Homo sapiens: one gene and its partner. The main gene of each other region encodes a partner of the protein of the gene in region 2 in a complex. Each region holds a gene or a part of one and is shown on either strand. Other genes may lie near its edges.

Region 1 (7,505 bases), on a different chromosome or scaffold from region 2:
AGGCAACCCCACAGGGACCAGGCAGAGTGGTGGGGAGGGAGAGGAACACAGGAGGGGGAAGGGAGACAGGGCTGAGCAGTAGGGGGAACCTCAGCCCCACCCCAGAGAGCCCTCTCCCTCCTGGTCTCTCATGTGCCCTGCCTCACCCTGCTGCCTGCCCAGCCCTGCCACCGGCCCTCCTCAATTTCCGTGCTTGGCCCCCAATAGGTGCTCCAGGCCACAGGTGATAAGGGTGGGGTGGCATGGGGGGTGGAGGAGGCCTGGGTGATTCGTGCGGGAAGAGAAGCAGGTGACACACACTGAGGACTCAATAGTCTGCTCGGGGCTGTATGGAAATGCCCAGAGGCATCTTGATTGTTACAATGAGCAGGGGATGAGGGTACAAAAGTAGTGTGCACAGGACGGTCCAGCTCAGTGAAGAACTGTCCCACCCAAAGTGTCAGTAGCTCCCCATCTACATGCAAAATCAGAAGGAAGAATTAAAAACAAACAAACAAACAAAAACATCAAAAGGAAGAAAGGGAAGGAGGAAGGAAGGGAGAGAGGGAGGGAAGGAGGAGAGGGGGCCTGGCATCCATCTGTGAGCATCCCGGAGGTCCTCCAGGACCTGCCCTAACACGCAACGAGAACCCGACATACCAAGACAGGCCCAGGACCGGTGCTGTCCTCAGACCACGCAGCCTGTACAGCAACTGTGTTTTTCCCTGTGGCTGCCAGGATAACTTACCACAAACGGAAAGGCTTAAAACAACAGAAACATATTCTCTCACAATTGTGGATGCTGGTGGCAGCATCACTCCAACTTCTGCTTTGCCCATCACATGGCATTCTGCATATGTGCACGCCCAAAATGCTCTCTTCTCATAGGACACTAGTCACGGTTTACAGCTAACGCAAACCCAACAGGACCTCATCTTTGTTTTGTTTTGTTTTGAGACAGAATCTTGCTCTGTCGCCAGGCTGGAGTACAATGGCACAATCTCGGCTCACTGCAACCTCTGCCTCCCAGGTTCAAGCGGTTCTCCCACCGCAGCCTCCCGAGTAGCTGGGATTACAGGCACATGCCACCACGCTTGGCTAATTTTTGTATTTTTAGTAGAGACAGAGTTTCACCATGTTGGCCAGGCTAGTCTCGAACTCTTGACCTCAAGTGATCTGCCCGCCTCAGCCTCCAAAAGTGCTGGGATTACAGGCGTGAGCCACCGTGCCCGGTCATGACCTCATCTTAATGTGATTCCATCCTCAAAGACTCTCCAAGTACAGTCTCATTCACATGTACCCATGTACCAGCGATTAGGACTTGAACAAATCTTTTGAGGGTGACAGAATACATTCTGTCCCAGAATTCTGACCCAGTAATCAATGCCACAAATCTCTATTCCTGCTTCGGAGTGTGGTCTATGGAGTATCGGCCTCTTCTGGAAGCTTGTTAGGAACACAGAACCTGGGCCACCTCAGACCTACTGAATCAGCACCTGCCTGGTGCAGGCAATCCACATGCTCATTCAAGTTTGAGAAGCCTTGGATCACTACCCCCCTGGGGGGATGTAAGGCAAGACCAGGAACTCATAGAGGTGGAGGTGACTGGGAATACCTGAAAAAGGATTTCCATAGAGAAGTGCTTGCCGTCATTCCTTCCTGTATCCTCATCTCCCCTAAGTAGCTATGAGACATGTCAAGATTCCACCTTCAGGAAGGAGGGGAGTGTTCACACACACACACACACACACACACGCACACACACACGAGGACACGGATGGTACCTTCAGGGAACCAGTGAACTTATCTACATCCTCTGGAATTTGGGGGATACAGGGATTGTACCTGGTTTATACACCAACATCTGTGATGCCAGCCAGGAGGCCTGCCTGGCAGCAATCCCATGGCAGTGACAGACAAAACATGTGGCCCTTCTTAAAGGATCAGGATGATAAAGTCCACTTGGAAAGGCCCTTCCAGGAGGAGCCTCTGGGCACAGAGCTGACCTCGGCTGGCAGGCAGGTAGAGTCATGAGCAGCCAGGTGAGGGACACCTCAAAAGTGTGCTTGGAGACAAGGTGCCAGCAACCTGGCATTTGCAGCCTCTAAAACTCCCTGGCCACGTGGCACCTGCCAGCAAGGAGCCCCTTTCTGCTTTCTCCTCCCTCTCTTCCCTGTCCTAATCCTGGAAAGCCCAAAAACAGAAACTGGGGTGTACAGAGAAAGTGGAGCCAAGAATAAAGACGATGTGGACTGTGCTCCCCTTTGGGGATTTCTCTGCCAGAGACACTGAGCTGGGGAGAGGAGACATTTGATATTAGATTTTGAACGCGTGGAACATGCTTCTATTGACTGACATCTGAGGAGCAATCACAAGTGCGGAGCTCTCCCCAAGATTTCATCCTGGGGGGAGCAAGAACAAGCCCATGGAAAGGGGCAGCCCTGAAAAAGAATCAAATTGCTCTTGCTCGCTCACTCCCGAAAATCCAGCCTACCCATGAAAACACAATGGGAAGACAGCGCTTAACTGGAAGAACTGACTTTGCTACAGGGTCAGGGATGCCCCCTTGGGGGTGACGGTGGCGCTGAGCCGGAGGGTGCAGGGGTGAAGGAGGCGAAGACTGTGAGCGTGGGAGGCACGTCTGTCAGAGGAAGTGGGCTGGCCTCGCTTGGCACTCCCTCCCAGGGCCTCCACCTCAGGCCCACAGGCCACTCTTCGGGCACACACACCCTGGGCCGCCTTCACGGCTTCCAGAACACGGCCGCAGCTATCCCCTGACACCAGCTGTGCTTGATCTGTCGCTCTCGCCTCACCTCCCTGCTTCCTCGGCAATCCACTCCCCACCCTTCCTCTCCACTCAGTTACTCACTAGTATAATAGTATTTGAAAGGTACAAACAGGCCGGGTGCGGTGGCTCACGCCTGTAATCCCAGCACTTTGGGAGGCCGAGGCGGGTAGATCACTTAAGGTCAGGGGTTCTCGACCAGCCTGGCCAAAATGGCGAAACCTCGTTTCTACTAAAAATACAAAAATTAGCCGGGAGTAGTGGTGTGCACCTGTAGTCCCAGCTAGTCGGGAGGCTGAGGAAGGAGAATTGCTTGAACCCAGGAGGCGGAGGTTGCAGTGAGTGAGCCAAAATCGCGCCACTGCACTCCAGCCTGGACGACAGAACGAGACTCCGTCTCAAAAAAAAAAAAAGAAAAGAAAGATGCAAACAGCCACAGCCTCGCTTTAAACCCGCCCATCCCCTCGCATTTACAAAACCCCAGTTTCATACTTTGACACACAGTCATGGGGCTCCAGCCTGCCGCCTCGCAGCTCTTCCCTCCTGTGCTGGGCTCCAACCCCACTGCCGCGTCCTTCTTTCTAGACCTAGGAACACTGTGCAGGCCTGTCCGGTCCAGCGGACGGCAGGCGCTCGGTTCTCCACACCCCGCTCTTTAGCCTTCAGGCCTCGGTGCTAACGCCACCTCCTAAGGGGGACCCTCCGGCGCCACCCAGTGTGCCTCTCCCCCACAAGCCTCTTTGGTCTCTTAAAGCAGCCATGCTGCCCTCAGGCTGTAAGTTCTCCAAGGGCCGCGGACGGACGGGGCCACACAGGAGAGCTCACACACAAGTGAGTGAAAGAATAACCAAATTAGGGCCGGGCGCGGTGGCTCACGCCTGTTATCCCAGTACTTTGGGAGGCTGAGGCGGGTGGATCACCTGAGGTCAGGAGTTCGAGACCAGCCTGGCCAACATGGTGAAACCCCGTTTCTACTAAACATACAAATTAAGCTGGGAGTGGTAACGTACAAATTAAGCTGGGAGTGGTGGCGGGCGCCTGTAATCAGCTACTCGGAAGACTGAGGCAGGAGAATCGCTTGAACCCGGGAGGCGGAAGTTGGAAGTTGCAGTGAGCCGAGATTGCGCCATTGCACTCCAGCCTGGGCAACCAAAGCGAAACTCTGTCTCAAAAAAAAATAATAATAATAATAAGCAAATTGAGGAATGAGAGCAGCATCTCAAGGACACAGGTACTGTTTTGGAATTTATTTTAGACCTTTTTTGAAAGTAGGCGTGAACGTAATTGTTTCAGGCACTCTTAAGCGAAGCCAGCCGGCGCCCCGACAGCCGAGGGTGCGGGAGCTCCCCACGGCCCAGCCCCAGCCCCAGACCCCGCTGCCGCGCCTCGGCACGCCCCTGCGCCCCGCCTCCGCGCCTCGGCGCTACTCACGCCCCGCCCTCCGCTCCTCGTCACGCCCCATGTCGCGCCTCCGCGCGACTCACGCCTCTCCCAGTCTCTCGGCACGACCTCGTGCCCCGCCCTCGCCCCTGGCGCAATTTATGCCCCGCCCCGCGCCTCGCCACACCCCGTGCCCCGCCCCCGCTTCTCCGGGCAACTCCTGCTCCAACCCCGCGCCCGACTCATGGCCCTCCCCGCCCCTCGCCACGCCTCGCCTCGCCTTAGCGCTTCGCCCCGCCCCTGTCCTGCCTCTACTTCCGCCTCGGGGGAGCTGGGAGCCCGACGTTTCCGGGAGCGCCGCGTGGTTAGCGTCGGCGGCTTTTGGCATGGCGACTTTTTCTGGCCCGGCTGGGCCAATCCTGTCGCTTAATCCGCAGGAAGATGTCGAGTTTCAAAAGGAGGTGGCGCAGGTTCGCAAGCGCATAACCCAGGTGAGCAGGCACCCTGGCCCAGGCTGCGAGCGGGGGCGATGGACCGGGTCTAGAGGGTATCTGGGGTTGCACGGTTTCCGGCCCGGGCGCCCCTTGCCTTCGTGCTCGCCTTCATTACCTCCAGGGTCTCCCAAGTGGATTCGACCGAATCAGGGACCGACCTCTTAAGCTTGCAGGCCACGGTTTCCGAGACGAAAGGGTTTACGCTGTTCGGTAAATGATGGAGGGGTTTGGCCGCTGAGGCCCTGGAGCCTTCATGTGGAGGGTAACGGGGAAGTATTGGGGTGACAGAAGCAGTAGAAAGAACCAGCTGGAGGGAATAGGCTCCTATACCACAGGTTATCTCCGGGTTAGAGCTGTCACGCTTCCGCGTTTCCCCCAAAAATGGGAGCCCCAGACTTAACACATTCGGGAAGTTTGTATGCCGGGTTGGTGATCTGGGAGTTATTAAAATAGAGTATTTGCCAGGTTCCACTTGCTGACTAGGGCCCCTGACATCGCTTATACTTTCTGTGGTTTTTAGCATAAAATACACAGGAAAACTTAGAAGTTCCTGTTACAGAGGTAAGGCTATGATGACTGAGACGTTGAAAGGCTAATCTGTACCGTGAGAGTTAACAAGCGTATCGAAAATTTTTCGATGAAGTGCGAGTAAACAGTAATATGCATACCAAATTGAAGCCTACGTTTATGTAGAGTTCTCTGGGCAGAAGATCTAAAATGGCTTGTTCAAAGATGTCCTTGCTTATCCGTTGATTGACATAGTTATTGAGCTCTAATATTATACTGGGTGCTGGGATGCCAGGCTGGAAAGATAGTTGACTACTGCTTGACCATGGCCTTTGTGGGGAGAGAAACACTAAACAGCCAGTTCTTTAATTACTACTGTGGTAAGTGGAAATGCAGAATAGGTTCTTGGGCCGAGGGCTAGGGGTTTTGTTACAATGTGATTTTCTTATTTATATATTTAATTTACCTGGTCTTTACGTCTTTAGCGAAAAAAACAAGAACAACTTACTCCTGGAGTAGTCTATGTGCGCCACCTACCTAACCTACTTGACGAAACCCAGATCTTTTCATATTTCTCCCAGTTTGGCACTGTGACACGGTTCAGGCTGTCCAGAAGTAAAAGGGTAAGATTTTTGCAGTTGGATTTAATGTTTTGTTTTTCAAATGTGTATTATCCTTGACATTAAAGAGCACGTTCACGCATACATTATTGCTTATCAGATTTCATTCCAAAAAGGAGAGTGGAGGAGGTTTAGAATCTGAAACAGCTACAGGAGCAAAATCAGTATTATTGTAAAAGTTTGTTTTTTACATTTCTCCAAATCCTTACATTAAATTGACAGTCCTGGTAAATGAGCTTTAGTATGAGGCCCAGGTTTATACATTTTCTTGTGTTAGCCTTTGGTACAAGCATCCTTATAATAGCAAAGGTTTATATAGTGAATAGTTAAAGGTGAGGACTCTGGAGTTGGACTGCTGAGGTTTGGGGTCAGGCTCTACACCTTACTAGTTAGAGTGATATGACCTTACCATGTTTCAGTGTTGTGATCTGTTAAATATAAGTAAAACTTCCTGGGAGTATTTAGTCAAAGGTTAAATATAAAGTCTTTAGAGGATTGCTTGGTACACAATAAACACTATATAAGTATAATTACTATTTGTGTCATACCTGCCTTCTAATGAGAAAACGCTTTACATAGCTTGTTTCAATAGTGGAGGAGTGACCCACTTTCTTTTCTTTCCCCGCACATAAACTTTAATTGGTTGTAGCCATAGACACCTATTTGATTTAGCATGTGGGGGATAGGGTGCACATCCATCATCTGTTAGTTGTCGTAAAGATAGATTGTAGGTAGAATTGAGGTCCCTTTTGTACCCTTCCCAGTGCTCTTCAACTTCTTTAATTAGGGAATTAAATTCACAAATTCAGTTTTCTTTTTTTTGAGACTGAGGCTTGCACTGTCGCCCGGGCTGGAGTGCAGTGGTACAATCTCAGCTCACTGCAACCTCCGCTTCCCGGGTTCAAGCAATTCTCCTTGCGTCACCTTCCCAAGTAGCTGGGATTACAGGCGCCTGCCACCATGCCTGGCTAATTTTTTGTGTGTTTTACTAGAGACGGGGTTTCACTATGTTGGCCAGGCTGGTCTCGAACTCCTGACCTTGTGATCCTCCCGCCTCGGCCTCCCAAAGTGCTGAGATTACAGGCGTGAGCCAGTGCGCCCGGCCACAAATTCAGTTTTCATTGCTATATATAAGTTTTTACTATATATATATGTACTAGAATACATATGTGTACATATATAAATGTACATATGGTATTATTTTAAAATTATATTACTCTATCATTCTTCAGCTGAATTTTTGTATTCAATAATCTGAGCTTTATCCATGTAACTCTATTGCCTTTGTTATCATCATTGCTCATTACTTAGGTTACTAAAGTTTATCCACCCTCCTATTGAACATTAGGTTTTGTTTTGGGGGGCGATCTCGGCTCACTGCAACCTCTGCCTCCCAGATTCAAGTGATTCTCTTTCCTCACCCTCCTGAGTGGCTGGGATTACAGGTACCGGCCACTGCACCTGGCTAATTTTTGTATTTTTAGTAGAAACAGTGTTTCTACTAAACACTGTTTTGGCCAGGCTGGTCTCAAACTCCTGACCTCAGATGATCCGCCCACCTCGGCCTCCCAAGGTACTGGGATTACAAGCATGAGCGAGCCACTGTGCCCAGCCCGAACATTAGGTTTTTTAATATTTTTAACTCTTTAGATTAAGCTGCTAGGAACAATCTTTGTACAGGTATAGGCAGAATTTTCTAGAAGAGTATTTTGCAGACTTTGGCTCACAATAAGAGGTAAG
Region 2 (6,286 bases):
TCTTCTTGGGACCTATAGAGGGAATAGACTAATATGGGAAAAGAACTAGTCAAACATGATTAATGCAAACTTAGAAGAGTTTCTCAAAAGCCAAATGAGTAATGTTCATCTTCAAATGTTTAAAAAATTGATCAGAGGATAGGTGGGTGGTTCAGTTCTATGTTCTGGATACTGTCACCAAGACCAGGACTGGGTTAAAAATCCTATCTATGTCACTATTTTAACTATCAGAACAATATCAATAAGGAATGTGTATTCTTGAGAAGGGGAAACTGTCTGGACTGTTAGATAGAGAGGCTCCCACTGCATGCAGAGAAGTTTGGGGAAACTCCAGAAATGGCAATTTCCTGTTCTGCCTTAGCAGTGATGGTTAAAGGAATAGGAATTCATTTACTCCCTGTAAATGAATGAATAACGGACCTTCTTTCTATAATGTAAACTGTAAAAATTAGATTTGATATATATCTTATTAGGCATTGTTATTGAAATTTATCCTGAATTCCTTATTTATAATTTGTCAGCAGAGACAGTCATTTCTCCATAGGAGCAAAGTACCAAGGCATTACCTTGACTATCCTAGATGACAAGTCTCTTAGACAATTCATCAGTGTGTGATTTTCAAATGATTTCTCCTTTTAGGTTACTGTTGATTGTGCTCCCTGTTGAATTTTGAAGTTTGTTTTACTAATTATTGGAATTTTGTGGATGTCTTCTCATTTCTTTAGGGAATATCCCTGCGCTCCAGACGCCAAAATAAGACTGAGGCAGAACAGCAAATAACTGAGGTCTTTGTATTAGCAGAAAGAATAGAAATAAACAGAAATGAAAAGAAGCCCATGAAGACCTCCCCAGAGATGGACATTCAGAATCCAGATGATGGAGCCCGGAAACCCATACCTAGAGACAAAGTCACTGAGAACAAAAGGTGCTTGAGGTCTGCTAGACAGAATGAGAGCTCCCAGCCTAAGGTGGCAGAGGAGAGCGGAGGGCAGAAGAGTGCGAAGGTTCTCATGCAGAATCAGAAAGGGAAAGGAGAAGCAGGAAATTCAGACTCCATGTGCCTGAGATCAAGAAAGACAAAAAGCCAGCCTGCAGCAAGCACTTTGGAGAGCAAATCTGTGCAGAGAGTAACGCGGAGTGTCAAGAGGTGTGCAGAAAATCCAAAGAAGGTAAGCCATTTACTGTTTCCCTGTTTTAAAAGACACAGAATGTTTTGATGTATTTTTTGCCCAAGGTTGCAAAGGCAAACAAAAAGCATTATCTTCAACAGCACTCTGCCAGCTCCCAGTTACATTAATGGAAGGAGCATTATGCTAAGACATAAATTTGGTCATTTTAGTTATATTTTGTTGTGTCTACTTTGGGAATTTCACTTCAAATAGCAAATTCACGTTATGAAGACTTTCTTCAGAAAGAAAAGGAATTTGTCTAGTGGCTAATTTCTGACTGCTTATGATGTACCTCATGATACAATTGTAGGTAGATGTCTTCAGCCTTTCTGTAGTTCAAAATCACCTCTTGAAACAGGAAAATTCTTTTTCCAAAAAAAACTATTGAAACAGAAAAATTTCCAAGGCATTCTTTGGAAAGGCAGAAGGAACAGAAGTTGGGATGTCCCTGAGACACATGCTCACTATGTGAGAGTTCCTGGTCAGTGGGGGATGCGTCTGCCCTCCAACCCTCCTCCAGCCAGAGACTATCTAAGCTAATGAACTTTAAGTGCTACTGAAATCACATCAAGTTGAGCCACTCATAATTACAAGCATGTGGACAAATCCATAAGAATGATTAGATTCCATTAGTGTTCTTCTGGGGAATACTTGGTTTAGCTAAAATAAAAATAGGTTGAATTGCTCCCTTTTTGTGAGCAATTCACAAAAATATAATATAAATTTAATTCTTAGCACACACAAAATTTGGACCTAAAACTACCATATTCTGAGTTCAGCAAACGAAACTCATGTAGCAATAACCTCTTCAGATACAGAATTCTGGCAAGTACAGCTGTCCAGACAGACCCTCTTCGGCACAAACTAGGAAGCTTCAACTGCCAAGAAAAGGAAAGATTCCCAGGTGTCCCCAGTACCTGCTGCATAGCCAGGCAGCCAGTGGAGGGGGAGGGCTTGTGTGTCTGGATGGTGGGCAGGAAGTCCTAGTGGGGAGATGCCCATAGACTGTTCCAGAGAGGGAAGAGGAGAGGCTCAAGAAGGGCACTGATGCCCACACAGGTGTCCTAAGTCAGAGACTGTACTTCTGGGGCAGGCTGGAAGCAGAAGACACCCGACAGTGCCAGACAAGGTCCTAGAAACCACAGGCACACCAGGGACGCAACAGCTGACGTGGGTCAGCACGTTCACCCGTCGAGTCTTACAATAAAACGCAGGCTCCAGGCGCTTACCGAATTCACAGTCTGGAAGGTGCTGCTTCCTCAGAATGAAACCAAAGAAGGGTGAAAGCGAATCTTTTAACTAGGATGATTCCTAAACACAGAGCAACCAGGCCCAAGGCTGAGCCAGGCCTGGTGTGTTCTGCCGGGGGCGTTCCAGCCTCTTCTCACACACAAGCACCCAGGAGACGCCCAACACACACATGCTCCTCTTTGCCGAGCTCTTCGGTGGGTGTCGGTAGTCCTAGAAAATGCATATATAAGATAGATTTTTTCCAGTAAGAAGCTTGTAGCCATGCTTTTCACCATGGTTCCTCTCCCTTAGCCAAGGGGTGAGAACTACTGCAAGAGTAAAGGCCAAGGCAGGTCTCCTGCATGCAAGTTGGGCATGCTTCTGTCTACAGGGGTTCCTTGGTTTAGGAGACCCAAAAGACTTAATCCTGGTTGGATTCACTTTTTCTGAGTGACATTTTTTAGTTTGTGAAAATGTGTGCATCGATGAAGAAATTTTATTATGAATTAGCTTAAAAATGCATTAGGAACTTCTGTATGAAAAGATCACATTATTTAAGTGTAAAAAAACTGCATAATAAAAGCAGTTCAAGTCAAGAAAAACAATGTTAATGGAATATATTTTAAAACTTATTTCCAACCTCAAAATTAATTTTCTGCAACTAAGGACCTGCATAATACCTAGTAAGCCTTTGGGGTTTTGCAGAGGAGGTCGATTCTAAAAATGGGTGTTTAAATTACTTAAGAGTTCTATTTTTTTTCTTCCCACACAGGCTGAGGACAATGTGTGTGTCAAGAAAATAAGAACCAGAAGTCATAGGGACAGTGAAGATATTTGACAGAAAAATCGAACTGGGAAAAATATAATAAAGTTAGTTTTGTGATAAGTTCTAGTGCAGTTTTTGTCATAAATTACAAGTGAATTCTGTAAGTAAGGCTGTCAGTCTGCTTAAGGGAAGAAAACTTTGGATTTGCTGGGTCTGAATCGGCTTCATAAACTCCACTGGGAGCACTGCTGGGCTCCTGGACTGAGAATAGTTGAACACCGGGGGCTTTGTGAAGGAGTCTGGGCCAAGGTTTGCCCTCAGCTTTGCAGAATGAAGCCTTGAGGTCTGTCACCACCCACAGCCACCCTACAGCAGCCTTAACTGTGACACTTGCCACACTGTGTCGTCGTTTGTTTGCCTATGTCCTCCAGGGCACGGTGGCAGGAACAACTATCCTCGTCTGTCCCAACACTGAGCAGGCACTCGGTAAACACGAATGAATGGATGAGCGCACGGATGAATGGAGCTTACAAGATCTGTCTTTCCAATGGCCGGGGGCATTTGGTCCCCAAATTAAGGCTATTGGACATCTGCACAGGACAGTCCTATTTTTGATGTCCTTTCCTTTCTGAAAATAAAGTTTTGTGCTTTGGAGAATGACTCGTGAGCACATCTTTAGGGACCAAGAGTGACTTTCTGTAAGGAGTGACTCGTGGCTTGCCTTGGTCTCTTGGGAATACTTTTCTAACTAGGGTTGCTCTCACCTGAGACATTCTCCACCCGCGGAATCTCAGGGTCCCAGGCTGTGGGCCATCACGACCTCAAACTGGCTCCTAATCTCCAGCTTTCCTGTCATTGAAAGCTTCGGAAGTTTACTGGCTCTGCTCCCGCCTGTTTTCTTTCTGACTCTATCTGGCAGCCCGATGCCACCCAGTACAGGAAGTGACACCAGTACTCTGTAAAGCATCATCATCCTTGGAGAGACTGAGCACTCAGCACCTTCAGCCACGATTTCAGGATCGCTTCCTTGTGAGCCGCTGCCTCCGAAATCTCCTTTGAAGCCCAGACATCTTTCTCCAGCTTCAGACTTGTAGATATAACTCGTTCATCTTCATTTACTTTCCACTTTGCCCCCTGTCCTCTCTGTGTTCCCCAAATCAGAGAATAGCCCGCCATCCCCCAGGTCACCTGTCTGGATTCCTCCCCATTCACCCACCTTGCCAGGTGCAGGTGAGGATGGTGCACCAGACAGGGTAGCTGTCCCCCAAAATGTGCCCTGTGCGGGCAGTGCCCTGTCTCCACGTTTGTTTCCCCAGTGTCTGGCGGGGAGCCAGGTGACATCATAAATACTTGCTGAATGAATGCAGAAATCAGCGGTACTGACTTGTACTATATTGGCTGCCATGATAGGGTTCTCACAGCGTCATCCATGATCGTAAGGGAGAATGACATTCTGCTTGAGGGAGGGAATAGAAAGGGGCAGGGAGGGGACATCTGAGGGCTTCACAGGGCTGCAAAGGGTACAGGGATTGCACCAGGGCAGAACAGGGGAGGGTGTTCAAGGAAGAGTGGCTCTTAGCAGAGGCACTTTGGAAGGTGTGAGGCATAAATGCTTCCTTCTACGTAGGCCAACCTCAAAACTTTCAGTAGGAATGTTGCTATGATCAAGTTGTTCTAACACTTTAGACTTAGTAGTAATTATGAACCTCACATAGAAAAATTTCATCCAGCCATATGCCTGTGGAGTGGAATATTCTGTTTAGTAGAAAAATCCTTTAGAGTTCAGCTCTAACCAGAAATCTTGCTGAAGTATGTCAGCACCTTTTCTCACCCTGGTAAGTACAGTATTTCAAGAGCACGCTAAGGGTGGTTTTCATTTTACAGGGCTGTTGATGATGGGTTAAAAATGTTCATTTAAGGGCTACCCCCGTGTTTAATAGATGAACACCACTTCTACACAACCCTCCTTGGTACTGGGGGAGGGAGAGATCTGACAAATACTGCCCATTCCCCTAGGCTGACTGGATTTGAGAACAAATACCCACCCATTTCCACCATGGTATGGTAACTTCTCTGAGCTTCAGTTTCCAAGTGAATTTCCATGTAATAGGACATTCCCATTAAATACAAGCTGTTTTTACTTTTTCGCCTCCCAGGGCCTGTGGGATCTGGTCCCCCAGCCTCTCTTGGGCTTTCTTACACTAACTCTGTACCTACCATCTCCTGCCTCCCTTAGGCAGGCACCTCCAACCACCACACACTCCCTGCTGTTTTCCCTGCCTGGAACTTTCCCTCCTGCCCCACCAAGATCATTTCATCCAGTCCTGAGCTCAGCTTAAGGGAGGCTTCTTGCCTGTGGGTTCCCTCACCCCCATGCCTGTCCTCCAGGCTGGGGCAGGTTCTTAGTTTGCCTGGAATTGTTCTGTACCTCTTTGTAGCACGTAGTGTTGTGGAAACTAAGCCACTAATTGAGTTTCTGGCTCCCCTCCTGGGGTTGTAAGTTTTGTTCATTCATGAGGGCCGACTGCATTTCCTGGTTACTCTATCCCAGTGACCAGCCACAGGAGATGTCCAATAAAGTATGTGATGAAATGGTCTTAAAACCCATGGTATTTTTATTATAGGGAGAGTGGGGAAAGAAACTAAGTGTGGGTGGGGCAGACAGGCCAGTGTAAGAGAGACTGGTTCATTACGTTCCATTTTCATTTCTACAAGGACTTGGCTGGATGGTCATTTTCTCTCTTGGCCAATAAGTCATCGCAGCTGCTTTTAGTCCTGCAGGAATGGCCTGCTGTATCTCGAGAACTACCTGCAACCGCAGCTGTGCCTGCTTTGTTGCAACAGAGGTGCTGAGTTGAGGGATGGGGATTTGACCCAGGGCTGCCCCAAGTCAGCAGATGAAAATACATGCCCTGACTTTCCTCTGGCAACCCTGATTTGACATGGATCCCGGGAGTGAATTTGCTGGCAAGTTCCAGGGGCAGTAGCCTGCGGTAGGTCAGTTAGTCCTGAAGAAGAGGCCTTTCTGTCGGAGAGAAAAGTTTGCAGGTGGGTGCATCTACCATCTTGAGAGGCTGAGGAGGGAGGGAGAGCCGTGCTCGGTGGTCAGTCTGGTGAAGGA

What was found. The genes of interacting proteins can lie anywhere in the genome.
Region 1: the proteins of MKI67 (region 2) and NIFK are in contact, whole or in part, in an NMR structure (PDB 2AFF), measured with the Homo sapiens proteins. Residues at the interface, in NP_002408.3 of Homo sapiens: Thr9, Ile10, Lys11, Arg12, Ser13, Pro18, His19, Phe20, Pro21, Ser23, Leu24, Arg31, Gly32, Ile33, Glu34, Cys35, Asp36, Ile37, Arg38, Ile39, Gln40, Leu41, Pro42, Val43, Val44, Ser45, Lys46, Thr66, Asn67, Ile91; in NP_115766.3 of Homo sapiens: Val228, Asp229, Ser230, Gln231, Gly232, Pro233, Thr234, Pro235, Val236, Cys237, Phe241, Leu242, Arg245, Gln248, Val249, Leu252, Asp256, Lys257, Asp259, Glu260, Ile261, Val262, Phe263, Lys264, Gln265, Pro266, Ile267.

Annotation. Positions count from the first base shown.
Region 1 is NC_000002.12:121,733,876-121,741,380, reverse strand, and holds the start of NIFK (MKI67 FHA domain-interacting nucleolar phosphoprotein), read left to right. Parts: upstream 1-4,505; 5' UTR 4,506-4,530; coding exon 4,531-4,635; intron 4,636-5,630; coding exon 5,631-5,768; intron 5,769-7,505.
Region 2 is NC_000010.11:128,096,141-128,102,426, reverse strand, and holds the end of MKI67 (proliferation marker protein Ki-67), read left to right. Parts: intron 1-725; coding exon 726-1,169; intron 1,170-3,171; coding exon 3,172-3,237; 3' UTR 3,238-5,768; downstream 5,769-6,286. UniProt on the Homo sapiens protein: Protein that associates with the surface of mitotic chromosomes and acts both as a chromosome repellent during early mitosis and chromosome attractant during late mitosis.